Linked DNA regions of Homo sapiens: all the other regions are reported to be linked to region 2. Evidence: microRNA targets listed by miRTarBase, many of them from high-throughput screens and not tested one by one. Region 2 holds a microRNA gene; each other region holds the end of a gene's coding sequence. Distances are between the middles of the regions.

Region 1 (4,065 bases), not on the chromosome of region 2:
CGGAAAATTACCATTTTTGAAGTGCTGGAGAGCAAAGGGGATAATGAGGGAGAAAGAAACATGCTGGTCTTGGTGTCTGGGGAGATATATGGAACCAACAGTGAGTGGGAGACTTTTGATGTCACAGATGCCATCAGACGTTGGCAAAAGTCAGGCTCATCCACCCACCAGCTGGAGGTCCACATTGAGAGCAAACACGATGAAGCTGAGGATGCCAGCAGTGGACGGCTAGAAATAGATACCAGTGCCCAGAATAAGCATAACCCTTTGCTCATCGTGTTTTCTGATGACCAAAGCAGTGACAAGGAGAGGAAGGAGGAACTGAATGAAATGATTTCCCATGAGCAACTTCCAGAGCTGGACAACTTGGGCCTGGATAGCTTTTCCAGTGGACCTGGGGAAGAGGCTTTGTTGCAGATGAGATCAAACATCATCTATGACTCCACTGCCCGAATCAGAAGGAACGCCAAAGGAAACTACTGTAAGAGGACCCCGCTCTACATCGACTTCAAGGAGATTGGGTGGGACTCCTGGATCATCGCTCCGCCTGGATACGAAGCCTATGAATGCCGTGGTGTTTGTAACTACCCCCTGGCAGAGCATCTCACACCCACAAAGCATGCAATTATCCAGGCCTTGGTCCACCTCAAGAATTCCCAGAAAGCTTCCAAAGCCTGCTGTGTGCCCACAAAGCTAGAGCCCATCTCCATCCTCTATTTAGACAAAGGCGTCGTCACCTACAAGTTTAAATACGAAGGCATGGCCGTCTCCGAATGTGGCTGTAGATAGAAGAAGAGTCCTATGGCTTATTTAATAACTGTAAATGTGTATATTTGGTGTTCCTATTTAATGAGATTATTTAATAAGGGTGTACAGTAATAGAGGCTTGCTGCCTTCAGGAAATGGACAGGTCAGTTTGTTGTAGGAAATGCATATTTTCCTCTCCAGTTAAGTCCCTTTCAATCTGTTTTCTCTTTGGACTTGCCATTTCCTGGCAATGCCACCTCCCTGTTGATTTGAAAACAACCCCTAGGCAAAATACAGTGTCAAAAGACACACACTTGTGTATGTATATTTGTACATACATGAACTTACAAAAATCTTTTGGTTCTATGCAGGCAGGTTATACTCATCTACATGCATGACTCACTCAAATGTATGCATATTAAAGGCCAATGGTATGTTCTCTGTTACCTCTTCTCTGAGTAGGATTTAAGTCAAGATAATTGACATCAGGGTTTTAATCATCCTAGGAAGTATTACCCTTCCTAAATACTCTGGAAATGTAAGTGTAGCTTTTGTCAGTTGAGTTTCTGTAGTTGCTCAGAGAGGAGGGGCCTGGCAAAGGATGCTTGAAGGGAAGGGTTAATTGATACAGAAACCAAATGGACTTAAGAGGTCTTAGAGGTACAACAGGAAAAAATGAACCCATGGAGGACCAATGTGCTCCAGAGGGCAACTCCTGGTCAAGGCAGGAAAACAGAAGAAACCAGCATGAAATCTGTTCCTGAGACAATAGGAAAGCAAGGCCATGAGTACTGGCCATTGCTGCTGCAGAGAGTAGAGGGGTTGGGAGGGTACTTGAAGGGGAGAAAGGGAGAAAGGGAAGAGGATATTGATGTTATCCTCAGAGGCTATCCTCAGATGTGTCTGTAAAACCAAAAGTGGTTCTGTTTAAAGAATTAAATCTTTTGGACAAAATAGAAGTATCAAAGACTAAGAGGAGGAAAATCAGAAGGGGTCTGTCTGTTGGAAGAAAGGATGTTAATATCTTTCTTCACCTGTTAACACTGTTCCCTTGTCTCAGCACCCCTGCTTTCCTCTGCTCCATCTTCTTCCTTCCCTCTTTCTTCTTGGCCCTAGTGCCTCTCACCTTCCTCCCATCCCTGTGTCCCTGCTCTTCCCTGGCCTTCATGATGCATGCTGTGAACTGGAAAGGGACACCTAAGTGCCTTTGCTCTCAGGGTGAAAGGAGTTAGTGTTCTAATTTCTAAATCTTCCCGTGATATTTAATTTGATTTTATTTTAATAATATCCTTTATCAAATGTTTTGTTCATGAAGAATACTTAGATATAAGAGAAAAGAAAACCAGAATAAGTAAGTATAAGAAAAAGAAAACCAGAGTCCAAATGAATGGATTTAAATAAACGAATTTATGAATAGACACACAAGCAAATGACTCAAAAGCCAAGCCTGAATTTTGAAATCATGATTGTTTCATGGTAGAAACCCAGTAACTTTCCCATCTTCTCATCTTACCATCTTCCCATTTTGCAACTGGCCAGGACTGAAAGTGGTGAGGAAGTGTTCTGCACAGGAAGGGTCCGGTGGGTTTTCCTGGCAGGTGGCAGCCTCCAGTCTTAACCCCTAACCATTTCCCTCTACCTGGCAAGCATATTCTGGGCTTTGTGCAGGAGGAACCAGAGCAGAGCAGAGCAGTTTCCAAACTGTTCCAGCATCTCCAGGCAGGGAACATGGATGGTTCCTGTTAGAACCAGGAATGTGGTTTCCAGTACGTCATCCCCCATTCACCCCTACTCATCTTAAGGAATGCTTCCTTAAGAAGTCTGACACTTTTTTCTTTTTTTTACCCTGGAAAACAATCAGTCCCCTTTTACAAATCTCTTAAGGTTATAAACTCAAACTGCACTAGACAATAGAGGCAAGGAAAACTATTTTGAAGAAGGCCCAATTTGAACCTCAGCTCGCTAGATCTGTTGTCTGCTGGGTGAATCCTGGGGAATTCATTGCTCATGGAAGAGTGGTGTTTTGACCGTCAGTGGGTATACAGTGATTGATGCTTTGAGAAAGCCATGCAACTCAGAATCACTATTTGTGGAACAGCCTCCATATAACATGATGTGTGTATGTGTGTGTGATGTATAGCTGGCTTTGAATAACCACGCTTAATACCCTCAGTGGAACGTGGTGCATCCTTCATACTCCATGGTACACAATGTATACTCACATACTCCAAGGTACTTCTTATCCTTTCTAAAGGACACTGTAATACATACACAGTAAAACCTCAGCTGACCAGGATAGTCCTGGTTAGATAAAAATTAAGCAAATTTTCTTTATGTCTAATACATATGACAGTGGTGTGCTGGTAAAACCCTTACAACCAGCAATCCAGGGGGAGAAAAAGCCCTGATTTGTGGATTTCAATGCTGCAAACGCTCCTACATGGTCTATCTTGAGCTGCCAAGGTGATGTCAACTGGCTTGCAAAACTTCTAAAACCTAAGTCAGCTCTTGGGAGCTGTGCACTGGTGCTGGCACACCGCTGACATTTAGTATCCCACTGACATTAGCACACCGCTGACATTAGCACCCTGATACTAGAATGTTAAGGATGTGCCAGCCCTGCTTTCCACTGTGTGCGCTGCTGGCTCCGGGCTTCTGGAGAAATCTTGTCTCGAGCACTTATAGTCACTCTTCTGTTAAAGAGATATGAAAATATAGGCTGTTGGCGATCAGGCTGCATAGCCCAGTTGTTTCTTTCTGCCCATCCAGATGTAAACCTGCATTTCTATGATTTTCTGCTTCCCTGTGGAAAGGGAGTGCAGAGAGCAACATATTGTTATTCAAATGTTGCTAGTTGTATTTTTTTGGCTTTTTGTCAGAAAGTGAAAAGACACAGCCCGTAGAGGAGTTCTCCCAGCTCCCACCGGAACCCCGGCAGCACACCGGTGTCACTTTCAACTCCTGCATTGACAGGAAGCCAGAATATTGTCAGATCCTTAAAAAGGTAGAATCTTACTAATGTTTCTCTGGTCATAGACCTTCTTCTGGGTCCCATGCCAGTTTTTTTCCCCCTTTTATTGCAGAATTATCATCACCGAAGTTGATATAGCTAAACAACTCTTGAGGAGAATTATAGCAGAGGGACTTGGGCAGCCCACAGCCAAAATATTCATGTAAGAGTTTCTAGGCTTCCCACTATTTATTGATTGATATATTTATTTTTGTAAAATATTGTAGAATACCAAATATTTTATTTTTATGTCTGTGATTCCCTTTTGGATAGAGAGTCTTCTGGGCTTCAGAGTATGGCTCACATAT
Region 2 (4,068 bases):
ATTAACCAAAAGCATCACAACCAAATAAACTATATTTACCTCTAAAAACTAGACTTATTCTGAAACTACAGAACAGTACAAGAAATTATATATAATCACTACATTGCAACACTTTTCAAACATTCTTATAGCAACATTTATGACGTAACAACATACCAGTTCAGATTTGAAGTAGCCTATTGTGTTTTCATCCAATTGAAAATATCTTCTCTTCCAGTTTTTCATCTACCAGAGATGAACACAGACATAAGACTTGTGTTTCTAAGAATGTCAAATGTTAGTCACCACTTAATTACCCTGATATGAACCCACAATCAGACATGCCAAGCAGTGAAAAATCTCATTACTTCCCTTAGAGATGCGATAAATTAAACCTCATCCCTCTCTAGCTACCCAGGCTTTGAATTCCTAATTCAATTTCTGGTGCCTGGCTTTCATCTTTTATTGTATGATTTTATGTGTTTTTTTTTTTTTTTTTTGAGACAGAGTCTTGCTCTGTCACCCAGGCTGGAGTGCAATGGCGCGATCTCGGCTCACTGCCTCTGCCTTCTGGGTTCAAGCAATTCTCCTGCATCAGCCTCTCGAGTAGCTGGGATTACAGGCTCCCATCACTATGCCCAGCTAATTTTTGTATTTTTAGTAGAGACAGGGTTTCACCATGTTAGTCAGGCTGGTCTCAAACTCCTGACCTCAGGTGATCCGCCCACCTTGGCCTCCCAAAATGCTGGGATTACAGGCGTGAGCCACCATGCCTGGCCTATTTCATATTTTTAATGTTGAAACTTTTTTTTTTTTTAAAAGCACTTCCCCTTCCTCCTACTCCTCGCCCCCGCCAACCCCATGTAAAGAGCAAACACAGGAAATGTTATTAAACCACATCAAGTTTCTCCATCTGTAAAAACATATGAATTCTTCCACAAGTACTTTATACATAGTAGTAAAGCACTAAATATTTAATAAAGTAAACCTATTTTGTACAAATATTTTTTGTCAATAAAATAACAGTTTTTGCAGAAGCACTTAAATATCTCTGACTGGTATTTTGGACTTAAGAGTAAAACAAAAAGGAACCATCAGGCTATGATCCTCAGTTGTGTGTAAAATTAGGGCTTTCAATCTACACACAACTGAGCATCACAGCCTGATGAGAATTCTGACTCTACCTGCAGACATTGTACAGTAAGAAACCCCTGCCCTCACCATCATTTTCCTCAGCCTAAAGCAGGTCAAACAGGTGAAAGGACATTCCCCTGGCTGCCCTAAAAAAATTAAGAGTTGCCAAAAAGTGATGAGAAGTCAAACAGAACCACCAAAATAATTTTAAGTATTTCTTTACTCACAGACTTAAAAAACATTTTCAAACTTTAAAGTTAATTTTCTCATGAAATTCTAAAGATTTAGTTCACATAGAAAGAATGGCTTAGATACTAAGGTATGTTGCAACCTTAGAAATATTGGTAAATTTACTTGCTCTTGCAAAAAATTCATCATGGAACTGATTATATGGGAATACCTGGGCTAACCCATAACAGCTTTTACTAAGTACCAGGTGCTGTGCAAAGGGAAACACACCTTTCTTATTTACATCTCTTAAAAAACAAAAACAAAACAAAACAAAACCCTAGATGGTAGGTTTTATATGATATTCCTTAAGACAGAAACTGAGGGCCTGAGAGGTTAAGTAAGTAGCCCAAGGTCAGAGAGCTTACCACGGAGGTCAGGCCAATGCCTAAACAAGGAAGAGACCTCCTAGGCACCACTCCTTCTCCTGCCGCTGGCCTGCCATCTCCCCACAACAGCTCTCTTTCCCTGACCCACTCCTGAGTATGAGTAAAGATGAATAGAAACACTTTCTAAAACATTAAACTGTTAGGAAAGCTCATTTAAACTGAAAGTCAGTGGTAATGGGCATTAACTTTCCTGGCCCCCTGCAAACCAAGCAAATAACAGCATTGAATTATAAACAGAGAATATCCCCTATTTTATCTCCTGACTCTCCTCAGCATGCCGGTCTCTCACTTTGGGTCTTTCATAAAATAAAGCAAACAATTTCCATGTTAATTTGAGTTTGCTAGAACGTAATCCTTTTTCATTATTTCATGTATTTTGTTAAGCTACTCACCACTGCTCCTTGTTTTACACAATATCCAGCTTTGATAACCGCACTATCTTGAGGTGGTTTAGGAGTAAAGTAAGGAAGATGGCTTTGTGACCGTTTCAGATTATTTCTGTCAATACTTTCACCACATTCATTTACTTCTTCTTTCTAAAATGAAGCAAAATAAATAAATTATTTTCTTGCTTGTTTAGCATACTTTTATTTCATATTATCCCAGTAGAAAATCTTAAAATCCACCTTAGATTAGTCAGAAACAGATTTTTGAAGAGTTTTCTAATTAATCTGAGATACTTACTCTTAATTTTCCTGTCACTGATTAAAGCACAAATTTCCATTCCTCTTGTTTTGCACAAGTCCTGCCACCAGTGCTCTTTTTTGGGGAAGGAGTTAACTTTTTATTTTGAAATAATTATAAGGATTCACCAGAAGCTGCCCAAAAAAAGTACAACAGGTCCTATGTACCCTTTCACTAGTTTCCCCTCAAAGGGAAACGGCGTAACATTATCAAAAAACAAGAAATGGACATTGGCACAACCCACAAACTTTATTCGGATTCCACCAGTTTTACATACATTCATCTATGTGTGTCTATACAGTTCTATGCAGTTTTATCACATGTGTAGATCTGTGTAACTACTACCACATTTAAGACCCAGAATTGGTCATCACCCCAAGGCTCCTTTGTGAACTTTAGAGTTCCTACCCCTAAATCCCCTGGCAGCCACTAATCTGTTCTCCAAGACTATAATTTTGACATTTTGAAAATGTAATGTAAATGGAAGCATACAGAAGGTTATCTTTTGAGATTATCTTTTTTCACTCAGCATAATTCTCTAGAGATTCGTCCAGACTGTTCCTTGTATCTAGAGTTCATTCCTTTTTATTGCTATATTTCCATGGTATGGATGGATGACCAGTTGTTTAACTGTTCACCCATTAAAGGACATTTGAGTTGTTTCCCACTTTTAGCTATTAGGAAAAAAGCTGCTATCAACATTCATGCACAAGTTTTTATGTGAATGTAATTTTCCCTTTCTCTACGATAAACACCTAGTCCTGCAAATGCTGGGTTGTACAGTAATCACAAGCTTACTTTTATTATTAAAAAAAAAACAAAACATAAACACTAAACTGTTTTTCAGAGTGGCTAATTTTCATTCCCACCAGCAACACCTGAGAGATTATGTTTCTCCTCAACCTTGGCAGCATTTGTGTCGTCACTTTTATTTCAGCCATTCTGAGAGGTGTGCAGTGATCTTTTATTGTGCTCTTAATTTGTATTTTTTCCCTGCTAGCTAATGATGGTGAACATCTTTTCATGTGCTTACTTACCATCTGTTTATCTTTTATCTTTTGATGAAATATCTGTTCATGAATTTTCTAATTGGATTTCTTGGGCTTTTTACTGTTGGGTTCTGAGTTCTTTCTATGTTCTAGATAAAAGTCCTTTGTTGGACATGTGGTTTGCAAATATTTTCTCCCAGTTTGTAGCTTTTCTTTTCATCCTCTTAAGAAGGTCTTTCATAGAGCAAGTATTTTTTATTTTGATGAGGTCCAATTTACCAATTTTTGCCTTTTATGATAGACATATATTATTTTATAATTTTTAAAACTATACTACAAAATAAATGATGCAATAAAATTATACCCTCCATAAAATCCTAGAAACTACTGAAATATCTATACCAAAATTACAATGCAACAAAATCTTAACTCTAGACAAAATTAAAACAGCCACAGATACAAACTAATACAGTGTCTTAACACAACTACAGGAAAATAGTCTTACCCCTTATGTCAACATAGGTCATAATACCAGTGAAAGAAGCTTAATCTAGGTACATAGTAACCAGAAGGTTAACAGTTTAAAATCATTACTTTTGGAAAAAGTAAACACACAATCCTAGCTTATTTTTTTATCCAACTTTGGTGGAAAATGTATGCTCTAT
Region 3 (4,065 bases), 51 Mb from region 2:
GGATTGGGGGCCATCCCTGGGGCCCTGCACCCCCCTCTCCCGGGCATATAACCATGTCCACAGACCTGGCAGGGGTCCAGCCCTTTGCCCCACCAAGAGCTCCCTGCACCAAAGCTCCTGGTCACCTCCCCTAAGGGACCCGGCTCAGCTGCCTAGGAGCTGGGGAATAGGGACCAGAGTGCCCTGGAGGGTCCAGGAGATGAGAAGGATCCCCTGCACCCTCAGGAGAACCCCTACCCCTGAGCTCTGGAGCCGGGGGCACTGTGAGAGAAGGCAGAGGGAGAGGCACGTAGAAGATACATTGACTGACCCTGTGGGCTCAGGGAGGGCAGAAGACAGGCACACCAAACCCTAGACGTCCAAACCTGGGACGCAGAGGAGCACACACACACGCTCGCTCAGGTGGGGACACGTGCACATGCTCTCCGAGGGGCATCCTGATGTGCCCACAGAGAAAAGCATAGGCACGCACACGCGCACGCACACACGCACCCCAGAGAGGAGAGAGAGAGAAATACCTGCGTAAGGGCCCTGCAACCCCCAAGGGTACCTGAGCTGCTTCCCACCAGGTACATGCCCTCGGGGGCTACCTCTTGGGTCTGAATTGGAGGAGAAACCACCCATCCCACCCCGGAGGCAGGCAGCCTCCACAGACGGATGGAGTCGGCAAAGCCTTTCTGGGCATTTCTCATAGAGCTGATGGTTTGAACCCTCCCAGGAGGCTCCAGCCAATGGGTCTGTGCTCTAGGACATGGTGCACATTTCTGGAAGTCAGACTGGAAATGGCACCTGGGTGGCTGGCTGCACTTCATCCGTCAAGCTCCTGTCCTGGGGGCAGAGCAAGCAGCTTCTGAGGGTGGGGTGGGGAGGACAGAAAAGAACAGGGAGGAGGGGCACGGCAGATCACAAGGTCCCCTACAGAAGCCTAGAACAGTGTGTCTGAACCCAAAGAGCCTCAGACCGCAGACTTCTAGGTATGAAAAGGACACTGAAGCCCAGAGAAGGCAGTGATATGCCTGAAGTCGCACAGCAGTTTAATGGCAGATTTGCAAGTTGATTCTTGGTCTTTGGACTGCCAGGCTACATGTGGGCACATTAGAGCCTGCGAGGGGAATGGCACCCCCTGTCACGGCACGTGTGGTCTAGCCTGGTCAGACTGCCCTCAAAGCCACGTGACCGAGGCCCACACGTGTTCATGGGCTAACAGTGACCAGTGAGGCCGAGCCCATGGGATGGGCACTTTGGCAGGGAAGGCTCACTGCCTTTGTCTGAGGCAGCATCCACATGGAGGCACCAGGGTCGAAAGCCTTAGTCTCAGCCTCCGGGCCCAGCCAGAGCCTAGCCCCTGATGCAGGCCTGGCCCCTCAGCAGCCCTGGTAGAAGGAATCTTCTCTCAAATCTCCAGGCAAGTCCTCCTTTGCCCACAGCCAGGCCGCACCCCAGCGGGGCTGGTGGGTGGTAAGAAGCCCCACGAGCTACTGAGTCCATGGCAGGGAAGCCAGGCTGGGGACGCTGGCTGGAACTGCGGCCCTAAAACCTGCCCTCCTCTCAGGATATCAGACTTTCAAAGGCCAGGATGTGCTGAGACGGGTCCCAGTGGCTGCTCGGAGACCTGCTGGGGCATGCCCTAGGGTCACTGCCTGGAGGTGTTGGGGAAGCGGGCACCTGCCTTGCCTGGAGTGCCAAGAGGGAGAGGCCTTTGAAGAGGCCTCTGTGCTGGCTGCAAGATCCTTGTCCCAGCCACTGCCAGGCAGCTGCACAGGGCAGGGACTCATCCCGTGCCATGCAGGGCCCCTCGAACAGGTTGGGTGGGGGTGGTATGTGCTGTCCCCTCAACCCTGGCAACCCTGCCCACTGGGAAAGGTTATTTCAGATCTCTCAGACCGTAGCGGGGTGGGTGAGAGGAGGGTTATAGGAGGTGCCTGTGGAGATCAGAGCTGGGAAACCAGCTTCTCAGCCTCCTTCTCCACTCCTGGGCATATGAAGCACAGCCAGGCCACCCGCCTCCAAGGCTCCCACGTTGCAGAGCTGACTGACACCGGGAAGCTCAGGCTTCTGCAGCTAGAGAGGACTTCTCAGCCATCACTCTGCTTTACAGAAGGAGAAACCAAGGTTGGGGAAGGGCAGATTCTGGATTCCTGGCCATCAAGAGAGCACCACGCTGCTCTAGAGGCTGCTGGGCTGAGGAGGGGATGAGGGTGTCAGGGCTGGCCCCACCCTAGGGTAAAGCTATCCAGCCGCCAGGAGAGAGATGCCCGTGGAGGACTCCCCTCCCCTACTTCATCTCTCTGTTTGAGTCCCACTTCTGGGCCACATCCCTTTCTAGGAGCCACCAGACCAAAACCAGACTGGAACATTCTCCCTGGCTCACAACTGGCCTGAGCAGTCCTCCTCTTTCATCCCAACTTTCTTAATCCAGATTCCCAGGAGTCCAGATGTATCTCCCTGGGGCTGTGGGAGGGAGGGCCCACCCACTCCAGCCCTCAGCACTCCTTGGCTTTATGGATTCAGCATCTGCTTAAGATTTTAGAGGAAAATCTAACCAGCTAAATCTAGACAGTGAAAACCCTGTCTGACCTACTCCCTGCACAACTGGGGAAACTGAGGCCTTGTCAGAATTTAGTCCAAGATGGATTCGTTAGCAGCAAAGTACTCTCTGTTCAGTCTCTCTCTCCTCAATGCACACGCGTACATGTACACACACACACACACACACACACACACACACAGGCACATTCACTCCTGGCCAGAAGTGTGAGCGTGCCCATTCTCATCCACACTCAAGAAAAGAGTTTTCTATTTTTTTTGTGTTGTTTTTCATTTTCTTTTTTTTTCTTAAAAAGGACTTATCCAAATAATCTGGATAATAAATCGTTTGCGTTTCCTAAGAAACTGGGTTTTTCTTTTCCCTTGTGGTTTTGGTGTTTTTCTTCTTCTTTGAGCCTTACTAGCGGTCTGAAGCTTTCTTTCTTTCCTTTGCCTTTTTGCTTTTGGACAGGAGAAAGCAGTTTGTCTGAATTGTACTTGACTCTTCAAAGAGGAAAAGGGCGTGGAAGCAGAAGGGGGCTTAGGGAGAAAGGAGAAATCAATAACGGAGGAAGAAAACGAGAACGGAACTAAAACCCATGGAACCCAGAAGTTGCCGGGCTGAGGGTGGGGGGGTGGAGGGAGGGCCTCCTGCCTGCCCGCCCCCAACCAACTGCCTCCAGAGGCTTCAGCCCCATCTTGGTTCCTGCACAGAGATCTCAGGCCAAGAGAGAGAGAGCGGGGGTGGAGAAGGAACTCTGGGCCCTCTAACAACAGAGTACATGGATTTTCTAAGGCTGGTCATGGTCTGGGGGTTGGGGAAGAGGAGGAGGAGAGGCAACTCTGGCTGTGAACTGGGAGGAAGCAGAGGCCAAACATCCCCATCAGGAGGCTGCCCCAGGCCTCCCTGCACCTGCCTCCTGCCAGTCCCTGCCAGCCCGCTGTCCCAGGAGGCTCAGCAGTCCCCGTCGGTGGCCACAGCCACCAGCATCTCACTCTTGCCCATCTCCTCCAAGGCACTCGCCAGGCTGTTGAGGTCCCCATCGTCCTGCTGCAGAGCTTCCCAGAGGTCCAGGATCACACCCGTGGGGCTCGCTTTGGTGGCAAAGTAATTCAGGTACCTGGCAGAGGGAAGGAGGGCACTGAGGTTCCCAAGCACTTAGCCCCTCCCCGGAGCCTGGAGGTGAAGGGGCACAAGGGGAAGTGGGAAGGCTGTGAGCTTTGGTGTCCCACTGTCCTGGGTCTGAATTGCAGCTACTGTGCTGCAGTCTGTGTGGCTCTCGGCAATTCAGAACCTATGGCTCAGAATCTCAGTCTCCTTGTCTCTAAAATGGGAACAATGCCAGTTACCGCTCAGCAAGATCCAAGATCATATAAAGTAAGGGTCTAGCGTTGTCTCTAGCATGTAACCATCTTGTTCATCATCATCATTATTATCATTGAAAGACACTGGCCCCAAGAGAGAATGACCACGTCTAGCATGTGGTCATTCCTCCCACCCGTGTTCCCTCCTGCTCCCATGAACTCCCCTGATAGGAG

Evidence for each region. Region 2 holds the annotated microRNA hsa-miR-3941 (UUACACACAACUGAGGAUCAUA, at 1,080-1,101, opposite strand). A microRNA usually pairs through its seed, bases 2 to 8, with sites in the 3' UTR of a target mRNA and lowers its output. Matches are read on the target gene's strand: a 7mer-m8 pairs with bases 2 to 8, a 7mer-A1 pairs with bases 2 to 7 and ends in A, and an 8mer does both.
Region 1: the mRNA of BMP10 is a reported target of hsa-miR-3941. Seed matches in the 3' UTR shown: 7mer-m8 at 2,863-2,869.
Region 3: the mRNA of UNC5B is a reported target of hsa-miR-3941. Seed matches in the 3' UTR shown: 7mer-m8 at 2,696-2,702.

The regions. Positions count from the first base shown.
Region 1 is chr2:68,862,355-68,866,419 of GRCh38, reverse strand. BMP10 (bone morphogenetic protein 10) reads left to right here. Exons shown (of 2, transcript NM_014482.3): 2 at 1-4,065. The coding sequence ends at 789. Among named protein-coding and RNA genes, the nearest start is that of BMP10, 7.0 kb to the left of the region's middle.
Region 2 is chr10:122,414,057-122,418,124 of GRCh38, reverse strand. It overlaps MIR3941 (microRNA 3941), which reads right to left and starts at 1,160; the gene lies at 1,058-1,160. PLEKHA1 (pleckstrin homology domain containing A1) reads right to left here. Exons shown (of 12, transcript NM_001001974.4): 7 at 2,123-2,266; 8 at 157-225.
Region 3 is chr10:71,298,694-71,302,758 of GRCh38, reverse strand. UNC5B (unc-5 netrin receptor B) reads right to left here. Exons shown (of 17, transcript NM_170744.5): 17 at 1-3,647. The coding sequence ends at 3,482. Among named protein-coding and RNA genes, the nearest start is that of SLC29A3, 19 kb to the left of the region's middle.